Linked DNA regions of Homo sapiens: region 2 is linked to region 1. Evidence: fine-mapped expression QTL. A gene starts in region 1. The other region holds a variant in brackets. All regions are shown on one strand. Distances are from middle to middle.

Region 1 (4,384 bases):
GTAGAGACTGGGTTTGGCAACATTACCCAGGCTAGTCTCAAACTCCTGGGCTCAAGAGGTCCCCTCCCCCCAACTCAGCTTCCCAAAGTGCTGGGATTACAGGTGTGAGTCACTGCGTCCAGGCTAAGTAAAAATATTGATCAATGAGGCCAGGCATGGTAGCTCATGCCTGTAATCCCAGCATTTTAGGAGTCTGAGATGGGGGGAGATCTCTTGAGGCCGAGGATCGCTTGAGCTTGGGAGTTCAAGACCAGTCTGGGCAACATGGCAAAACCCCATCCTACAAAAAAAAAAAAAAACAAAAATTAGTCGGATGATGTGGTGGGGCACGCCTGTAGTCCCAGCTACTTGGGAGGCTGAAGAGGGAATATCCCTTGAGCCTTGGAGGTTGAGGCTACAGTGAGCTGTGATCCCACCACTGCACTCCACTGGGCCACAGAGAAAGAAAAAAAAAAAAAACAAGCTGGGCACAGTGGCTCACGTCTGTAATCCAACCACTTTGGGAGGCTGTGGCGGGCAGATCACTTGAGGTCCGGAGTTTGAGACCAGCCTGGCCAACATGGTGAAAACCCATGTCTACTAAAAATACAAAAATTAGCCAGGCATGGTGGCGCGAGCCTGTAATCCCAGCTACTCAGAAGACTGAGGTGAGAGGAAGTCTTGAACCCGGGAGGCCAGAGGCTGCAGTGAACCGAGGTCACCCAACTGCACAAAACAAAAGACGTCCTGGCGCGGTGGCTCACTCCTGTAATCCCAGCACTTCAGGAGGCCGAGGCGGGTGGATCACTTGAGGTAAGGAGATCGAGACCAGTCTCGTCAATATGGCGAAACCCCGTGTCTACTAAAAATACAAAAATTAGCCGGGCGTGCTGGCGGGCCCCTATAATCCCAGCTACTCGGGAGGCTGAGTTAGGAGAATCGCTTGAATCCGGGAGGCAGAGGTTGCAGTGAGCCGAGATCGCGCCACTGCCCTCCAGCCTGGGCGACAGAGAGAGACTATCTCAAAAAAAAAAAAAAAAAAAAAAAGAATTCCCTAAGCTACTCCACAATGCCCAAACTACGTCTCCTGTCCTATCAAGACACAGCCCCATACCAAACACAAGCAACCTTTTCGGGAGCCTACGGCCGTCCCCCTCCAGCCTCTCCGAGCCTCTCAAGATTCCCATTTGAGATAACTTGCTCCAAAACTCCTCAAAACCCGCATTCTCTCAGACTGGCCCGCCCGTGAGCTCCCACAAGAGTGTAAGCTCCCGTCTGTCCGGTTGGCCAGTCCAGTCTCCCCTGTGTGCAGCACGGAACCAGGTCCCATACCCTCGAATGAATGAACTGCGTCCCTCACCTCACCCTTTCCACGTATCCCCAGCCCCTCTTATCCCCTAACCGCGATCAAACCCCACAATCACCGCTTTCGGGCCTCGGATTTCCTGAGTTTGAATTCTCCCGCTCTCTCAGGACTCCCCAACGCCCCCTTCAGAGCTCCCATCCTTCGGAACGGCCCTCCCAACCACTTCCCAGACCTTCCAGAAACATCCCCAATCAACTCCTCCAGTCCCCCCAAGAGAGAGACGATCCCAGAGCACAGAATTCCCGCCTCCTCCCTTCAAATCACACCTTCCCGCTCCTTCCGGGCCGCAAACGCCTCAGAATAGACGCCCCCTCCAGACCCTAGCGGCCTCAAGCCGCGCCGGCCCTGACCGTTTCTGGGCCTCCAGTCCCCACAGGCGGATCTGCCGGTCATACTGTGCCGCCTCCTCCTCGCTAATGCCGCCGCCAGCCTCCTCCTTCTCCACCATGGCGCCGGCTCTTCCTGCCTCAGCTCCGGTCCCGCTCAAGCCAACCGCCCGCCGGACCCGCGCGCCACCTACCGCCGCCGGCAGCACGCCCGGAGTGCTTCTGCGCATGCGCAGACCCTCCCACGCCTGCGCAGTACCTCGTCCGCGGAGCCTGGGACCAAAAGTACCTCACGAGACTCAAAGGCGATCCGGCGACTGCATGTCACGTGACGGAGGGTCCAACCAATCCTAGCCCCAAAAATGGCGCGGCTTAAGGCCCCGAGGGCGTTGCCCACGTGGTCACTTATGTGGCACTTAAATTCTGCAAATATTTAAGGAGTGCATACTGAGATCCCAGCAATAGGGATGTTGTAAAATAACGGTATTGAGTGAAATCGACAAAGCCCTGTCCTCATGGAGTTTACGATCCAGTGAGAAAAGCCCGAAGAGAAATAAATATAAACCCAGCGATGATAAATGCTTTGGAGAAAAATAAAGCAGGACATGGGGCTACAGAGTAACAGGGGTGGTCAGGGAAGGCTTATCAGAGGTGACATTGAACTGTCAATTTTTTTTTTTTTTTTTCATAGAGATGGGGTCCCTCTGTTGCCTAGGCTGGTCTCCAACTCCTGGCCTCAAGCCATCCTCCCGCCTCTGCCTCCCAAAGTGCTGGGATTACAACCATGAGCCACTGTGCCCAGCCTTTCATGTCCCTACTATGTGTTGCACTTTGTGCCCAGCCCTGGACATACAATAATAATAAAAATGAACACATCTCTGCCTTAGAGGCAGTCACGGCCCAGTGGGAGAGAGGAGCGTTAAGAAAACAGGAATAGGCCAGGCACGGTGACTCGCACCTGTAATCTCAGCACTTCGGAAGGCCAAGGCAGGCAGATTACTTTAAATCAGGAGTTGGAGACCAGCCTGGCTAATGTGGTGAAATCCCGTCTTTAGTAAAAATAAAAAAATTAGCAGGGCATGGTGGCTCACACTTGTAGTCCCAGCTACTTGGAAGGCTGAGGTAGGATAATTGCTTGAATCCGGGAGGCGGAGGTTGTAGTAAGCCAAGATCATGCCTCTGCACTCCAACCTGGGTAACAGAGCAAGACTCTGTAAAAAAAAAAAAAAAAGAAAGAAAGAAAGAAAGGAAGGAAGGAGGGAGGGAAAGAGAGAGGGAAAGGAAGGAAGGAAGGGAAAAAAAAAAAAAACCAGGGATGGCCCCAGGTGGTCAATATAGGGAAACGCTATCTCTATTAAAAATACAAAAATTAGCTTGGTGTGGTGGTACTGAGTCTATAGTCCCAGCTACGTGGGAGGCTGAGGTGGAAGGATTTCTGATGTTAGAATCATAGGCTTTTTGGCAGGGCACAGTGGCTCATGCCTGTAATCCCAGCACTTTGGGACGCCAGGGAGGGCAGATCACGAAGTCAGGAGTTCGAGACCAGCCCGGCCAAGATGGTGAAACCCCCATCTCTACTAATACTAAAAAATTAGCCGGGCGTGGTGGCACACGCCTGTAGTCTCAGCCAATTGGGAGGCTGAGGCCGGAGAATCGCTTGAACCTGGGAGGCAGAGGTTGCAGTGAGCCAAGATCCTGCCACTGCACTCCAGCATGGATGACAGAGACTCCCGTCTAAAAAAAAAAAAAAAAAAGCCACCATGCCCACCTAACTTTTGTATTTTTAGTAGAGACAGGGATTGCACCATGTTGGCCAGGCTGGTCTCGAACTCCTGAACTTGTGATCCACCCGCCTCGGCCTCCCAAAGTGCACGGATTACAGGTGTGAGCCACCATGCCTGGCGGAATCATAGATTTTTATTTAAGAATTGCTTAGGCCGGAGGTGGTGGCTCACGCCTGTAATCCCAGCATTTTGGGAGGCAGAGGTGGGCGGATCACGAGGTCAGGAGTTCGAGATCAGCCTGGCTAACATGGTGAAACCTTGTCTCTACTAAAACTACAAAAAATTAGCCGGGCGTGGTGGCAGGCGCATGTAGTCCCAGCTACTGAGGAGGCTGAGGCAAGAGAATAGCATGAACCTGGGAGATGGAGCTTGCAGTGAGCCGAGTTCGCGCCACTGCACTCCAGCCTGGGCAACAGAGCAAGACTCCGTCTCAGAAAAAAATAAATAAATAAATAAATAAATAAATAATAAGAATTGCTTAGCGCCCGGCATGGTGGCTCATGCCTGTAATCCATGCGCTTTAGGAGACTGAGATAGGAAAATCACTTGAAGTCAGGAGTTCATGACCAGCCTGGGCAACATGACAAGACCCCTGTCTCTACAAAAAAAAAAATTTTTTAATTAGCTGGGTGTGGTGGTGCGTGCCTGTAATCCCAGCTACTTGGGAGGCTAAGGTGGAAGGATCCTTTGAGCCCAGGCGTTAGAGGCTGCAATGAGCTATGATGGCACCACTGCACTCCAGCCTGGACAACAGACCTTGTCTCAAAAAAAAAAAAAAAAAAAAAAAAGCTTAAGATATTTTTCAGATCCTGAATTCCAGCAAAACAGCTGATACCAACCAGTGTGAAGACCCCGCAGAGGAACCAAATCGACAGGAGAATAGAGTTTCTTCAACTCCCTGTTTCATTACTTCACCCTGCACACTTCAA
Region 2 (4,384 bases), 27 kb before region 1:
GTTCCAATCCAGGCAACTGAGTGACTTACTTCTAAATATTTCTGGGCAAGTCTATTGTCTTCTTTGGTATTCTGTTCTCTCAGCTTAGTTCAAATAACCTAAACCGTGAGAATTAATATACTAGAAGGTTAATTCATTTCATTGGTAACAAAGGTTACTTCAATTACTCTTTTTTAAAATGGAAACAATCAGGCTGGAAGCTGTGGCTCACGCCTATAATCCCAGTACTTTGGGAGGCCAAAGTGGGCGGATCACTTGAGGCCAGGAGTTCGAGACCAGCCTGGCCAATATGGAGAAATACCGTCTCTACTAAAAATACAAAAACCAGTCGAGTGTGGTGGCACACACTGGCAGTTCCAGCTACTCCGGAAGCTGAGGCAGGAGAATTGCTTGAACCCAGGAGGCAGAGGCTGCAGTGAGCTGAGATTGTGCCACTGCACTCCAGCCTGGGTGACACAGCAAGACTCCATCTCAGAAATAATAATAATTTTTAAAAATTAAAAATTAGCCAGGTGTAGTGGATGTCTGTAATTCCAGCTACTTGGGAGGCTGCAGTGAGCAGTGTTTGAACCACTGCACTTCAGCCTAGGTGACAGAGTAGTCAGACCCTGCTTCAAAGAAAAAAAAAAAAAAAGGAAGAAAATAATCTCCAGGGTTGCTGGATTATGCTGCAGTTAACAGCCACCAGTACACTGAACAAATATTCCGTGGATATGACTGTGCTACACACTGGACTAGGAGTCTAGCAGTGAACAAGACTACCTTCCCCCTATGGAGCTTAAAATGGAAGCGGGGAGACAGAGACAAGCAACCTAAGGGCCACCAGCAGTGGAAACCAAGGTACCACATGAAAGAAAAAGAACTCGACTGTTTCTTTAATGACGGGTGTAAGAGAGGATGAGAAGGCTGTCAACAAATTGCTCAGAAAGAGGGAGTCAAAAGAATGAATCACTCCTCAACTGTGGAATTTCTCAACTAATTCATGAAAAGAGTATTAATAGTACTCCAAATTAGTCACCTATTTCAGGAGCAGAGGTAAAATTAAATCTGTATTTCTAGTACAGTCAGGAACAAACCCTACTTTGTCTTTAATTTTTAAAGAGCTATTACAGAGTAACCACTGTCAGGCATCTCATCATCTCTGGCAGCACCTAACACAGATAACTCACAATAAAGAAACGTGAACATGGGAGCATGACAGTGGCCTTTTATCCTAAAGGTTTTCCAGAATGATCCCGATGTTCACATATTTTATCCCACCATCCTCCTAATATGTCACGTTACCCTAGCAACTTCAGGGGTATCCCTCTTTGTAAATCATAGGGTGAGCCTATGCCCTTACCCACTGTCTATGCTCTCGCCCCTTCTTCCACAGCTGTGTGGCCTTGGTCAGGTCACTTAATTTCTCATAGCTTCTTTATCAGCTATAGATGGGGACAACAAGACTGGATGTGATTCCCTGCACTCAACACAGTGCCTTGCACACAGTAGGCATTCTGCAACTCATGGAAGGAGCTGGCTGCGGCAGTGAGGGCAGCCACAGCAACTCTGCCCCTACGTCCGTCTTTCGGTTTATCCTACTTCCTCGGACAGAGCACTGCTCTTGGCTCTGGTGCCTGGAAAGCTTGTCCCTCACATGCCAACACAAACAACTCTTCCTCTGGGAAACCTTTTTGGGCACTTCCTTACCACCACCTCATTGCTGTCTCCTCTGGCTCCTGCATGTCAGTGTCCATGTGAGGCTTGTGCCCGAGACCTGATTGTGACGAAATCCGTCTCAAATCTTCTCCTGAGCACCAAAGGAAGCAAACAAACTACTGAGCACCTATTTCTGGGCTAGGCATTTTCCTAAGCCCTTATTTATCAGAATGGCACAGGTGCTAGAAAGGCCCACCAGCTTCCTAGAGGGTGTGAAAACCACAGGCTGTTTTTCCTTTTTGTTTTTCAA[C/T]GTTACTAATTTAGGAGCACAAAGTGTACCTTGAAGCAAAAGTGGCTTTACAACCTTTGGTTAAACCTAGGGAAAGCGGGGAGGGGAAGGGAACCCTAACCAGAAAACCTTTCACAGGAAACAGGAAGTAGCTGCTTCCCCACCCCCACCCTGCACTCTCTGAGCACAACCCAACTAGTTATTCTGTACAATTAGGCAAAAGGGCAGCATCTGAATCAAGGAATCTTTGGTGTTGGAAGAGAACCTTGAAATCACAGGGCCATCTGTGCCAAAACGGAAGGAGGCATGTTATTGCAAGGTGACAAAGCCATGGCCAAAACCCAGTCCAGCCCAGTCGGTCCGCAGGGCCCTTGGTGAGGCTGCACAAAGGCAAGGTTTGGAATCCCAGGGATTGTCAGCAGGAATGCACTGAATGCCTCGTAACCTTAAGGGCTTGGGGTTGGAATCCGAGCCTGCATTGTTCAAGTGTAACAGCTGACTAACAATGTCAGCTGGGGAATATTTTGATACCTTCCAGCTCAGCTCCACGTAGGAAGAGGCTGCACAAAAACCTCTGTGCCTGTAGGGCCCTCCGGAATGGTGGGCAAAGGCCTGGGCTGCCCACATTCTCCTCATAGCGAGATAAAGTGGTTCCCAAAAGAGGTTTCCAGATCCACCCCAGTGGGCACCATCAGAACTGACTCCAGGGAAACTTCCAGCTGTGAATGGCTAACAAAGCTAGGCACTCTCTCCATTTGAATGTGAAAGACCTGCCTCAATCAGAGAAGGCCCTTAAGCCATAAAACCCTTCACACCAAGGCCAAGTGTCACACTTGTAAGAGGGTGTGATTTATAAACTGACAGCACCCACAAAGCAGCTTTTGTACTCCTCCGTTTGTTAACAATTTATCTCCCCCCACCAAATTCACGGAGCTATTCAGATAAATCTTGACTGGGCCTCAAAAAGAAAGAAAGGCACCCAAGTTTTGGCCAAAACACCAAGGTTCACTCTGGATAATTATGGTTCTGTGAATAGACACTAAAATTAGGGCTTAATTCCTCTGTATCACACTTACAGCACCAAACTACTCCAACACAAACACAAAATGAGAAAGAAAATCTCCAACGCCGCCTTGCTGGAGAGTCTGAGAGTTCCACTTTTGTGGTTTTCTGCAGTCTCTTTTGTGGTTTCTGCACTCTTTAGAATCCCCTCGTTAGCGTAATTTAACTCAACATTCTGACCAGCTGTTTTTCTTTCTCAACATTTAAATCTACAAAGCAAAGAGTAAATATGGGCTTGGTCATGTCTTTCCTCTCAGTTCAATGAAACCAATTCTGGCCCCTTCATCTTGCTTTCCCCATCGCATGGTTCCCATCTCAGATTCCAGCACTAGCTACAGAAACCATCGTCTTCTGATCCCTTCTCCACTCCTTTCTATAAATGTAATTATTGCACCTAATCCAAATAGAGGCTGAGCCCCTAATATAAACTACATTAACAAATATGAATCTGAGGATTCATACCATCCTGGCCAACATGGTGGAACCCCATCTCTACTAAAAATACAAAAATTAGCTGGGTGTGGTGGCACACACCTGTAGTCCCAGCTACTTGGGAGGCTGAGGCAGGAAAATCTCTTGAACCTGGGACGTGGAGGTTGCAGTGAGCTGAGATTGTGCCACTCCAGCCTGGACACAGCAAGACAACATTGAAGGATTTTTCTTATTAAAGGTTATTTGGCAAAAGGAAAAAAACAGGCAAAGAAAACTTTTTTTTTTGGAGACAGAGTCTCGTTCTGTCGCCAGGCTGGAGTGCAGTGTTGCCGTCTCGGCTCACTGCAACATCCGCCTCCCCAGTTCAAGCTATTCTCCTGCCTCAGCCTCCCAAGTAGCTGGGACTACAAGCAACGCACCACCTTGCCCAGCTAATTTTTGTATTGTTAGTAGAGAAAATACAAAAAATTTTTTGTTTTGCTTTTTTTTTTTTTAGACAGGATCTTGCTAGGTGGCCCAGGTTGGGGTGCAGTGGTGTGACCATGGCTCACTGCAGCCTCCACCTCCCAGGCTCAAACAATCCTCCCAGCTCAGCCTATGAGTAGCTGGGCCTACAGGTGCTCACCATCACGCCAGACAAATTTTTACATTTTTTTTGTAGACACGGGGTCTTGCTACTGTAACCCAGGGCTGGTGTTTTGCTGCTTTAAAAAAAAAAGTTTTCTGGTCGGGCATGGTGGCTCATGCCTGTAATCCCAGCACTTTGTGGGGCTGAGGCAGGTGGACCACGAGGTCAAGAGATAAATACCATCCTGGCCAACATGGTGGAACCCCGTCTCTACTAAAAATACAAAAATTAGCTGGGTGTGGTGGCACACACCTGTAGTCCCAGCTACTTGGGAGGCTGAGGCAGGAAAATCTCTTGAACCTGGGACGTGGAGGTTGCAGTGAGCTGAGATTGTG

What was found. PIP is the estimated chance that this variant, and not a neighbour inherited with it, causes the effect.
Region 2: its variant is fine-mapped to the expression of SAE1 in whole blood (TOPMed, PIP above 0.99).

What each region holds. Positions count from the first base shown.
Region 1 is chr19:47,128,340-47,132,723 of GRCh38, reverse strand. It overlaps SAE1 (SUMO1 activating enzyme subunit 1), which reads right to left and starts at 1,889. Exons shown (of 9, transcript NM_005500.3): 1 at 1,696-1,889. The coding sequence starts at 1,793. RefSeq lists enhancers at 1,569-1,808, 1,501-2,115.
Region 2 is chr19:47,155,801-47,160,184 of GRCh38, reverse strand. The region is part of intron 5 of SAE1 (SUMO1 activating enzyme subunit 1); the gene reads right to left. It overlaps LOC124904730 (a long non-coding RNA gene), which reads right to left and starts at 3,515. Exons shown (of 2, transcript XR_007067277.1): 1 at 3,004-3,515; 2 at 1-1,789. RefSeq lists enhancers at 1,517-2,059, 2,060-2,601, 2,602-3,145. The variant C/T (reference allele first, on the strand shown) is at 1,949.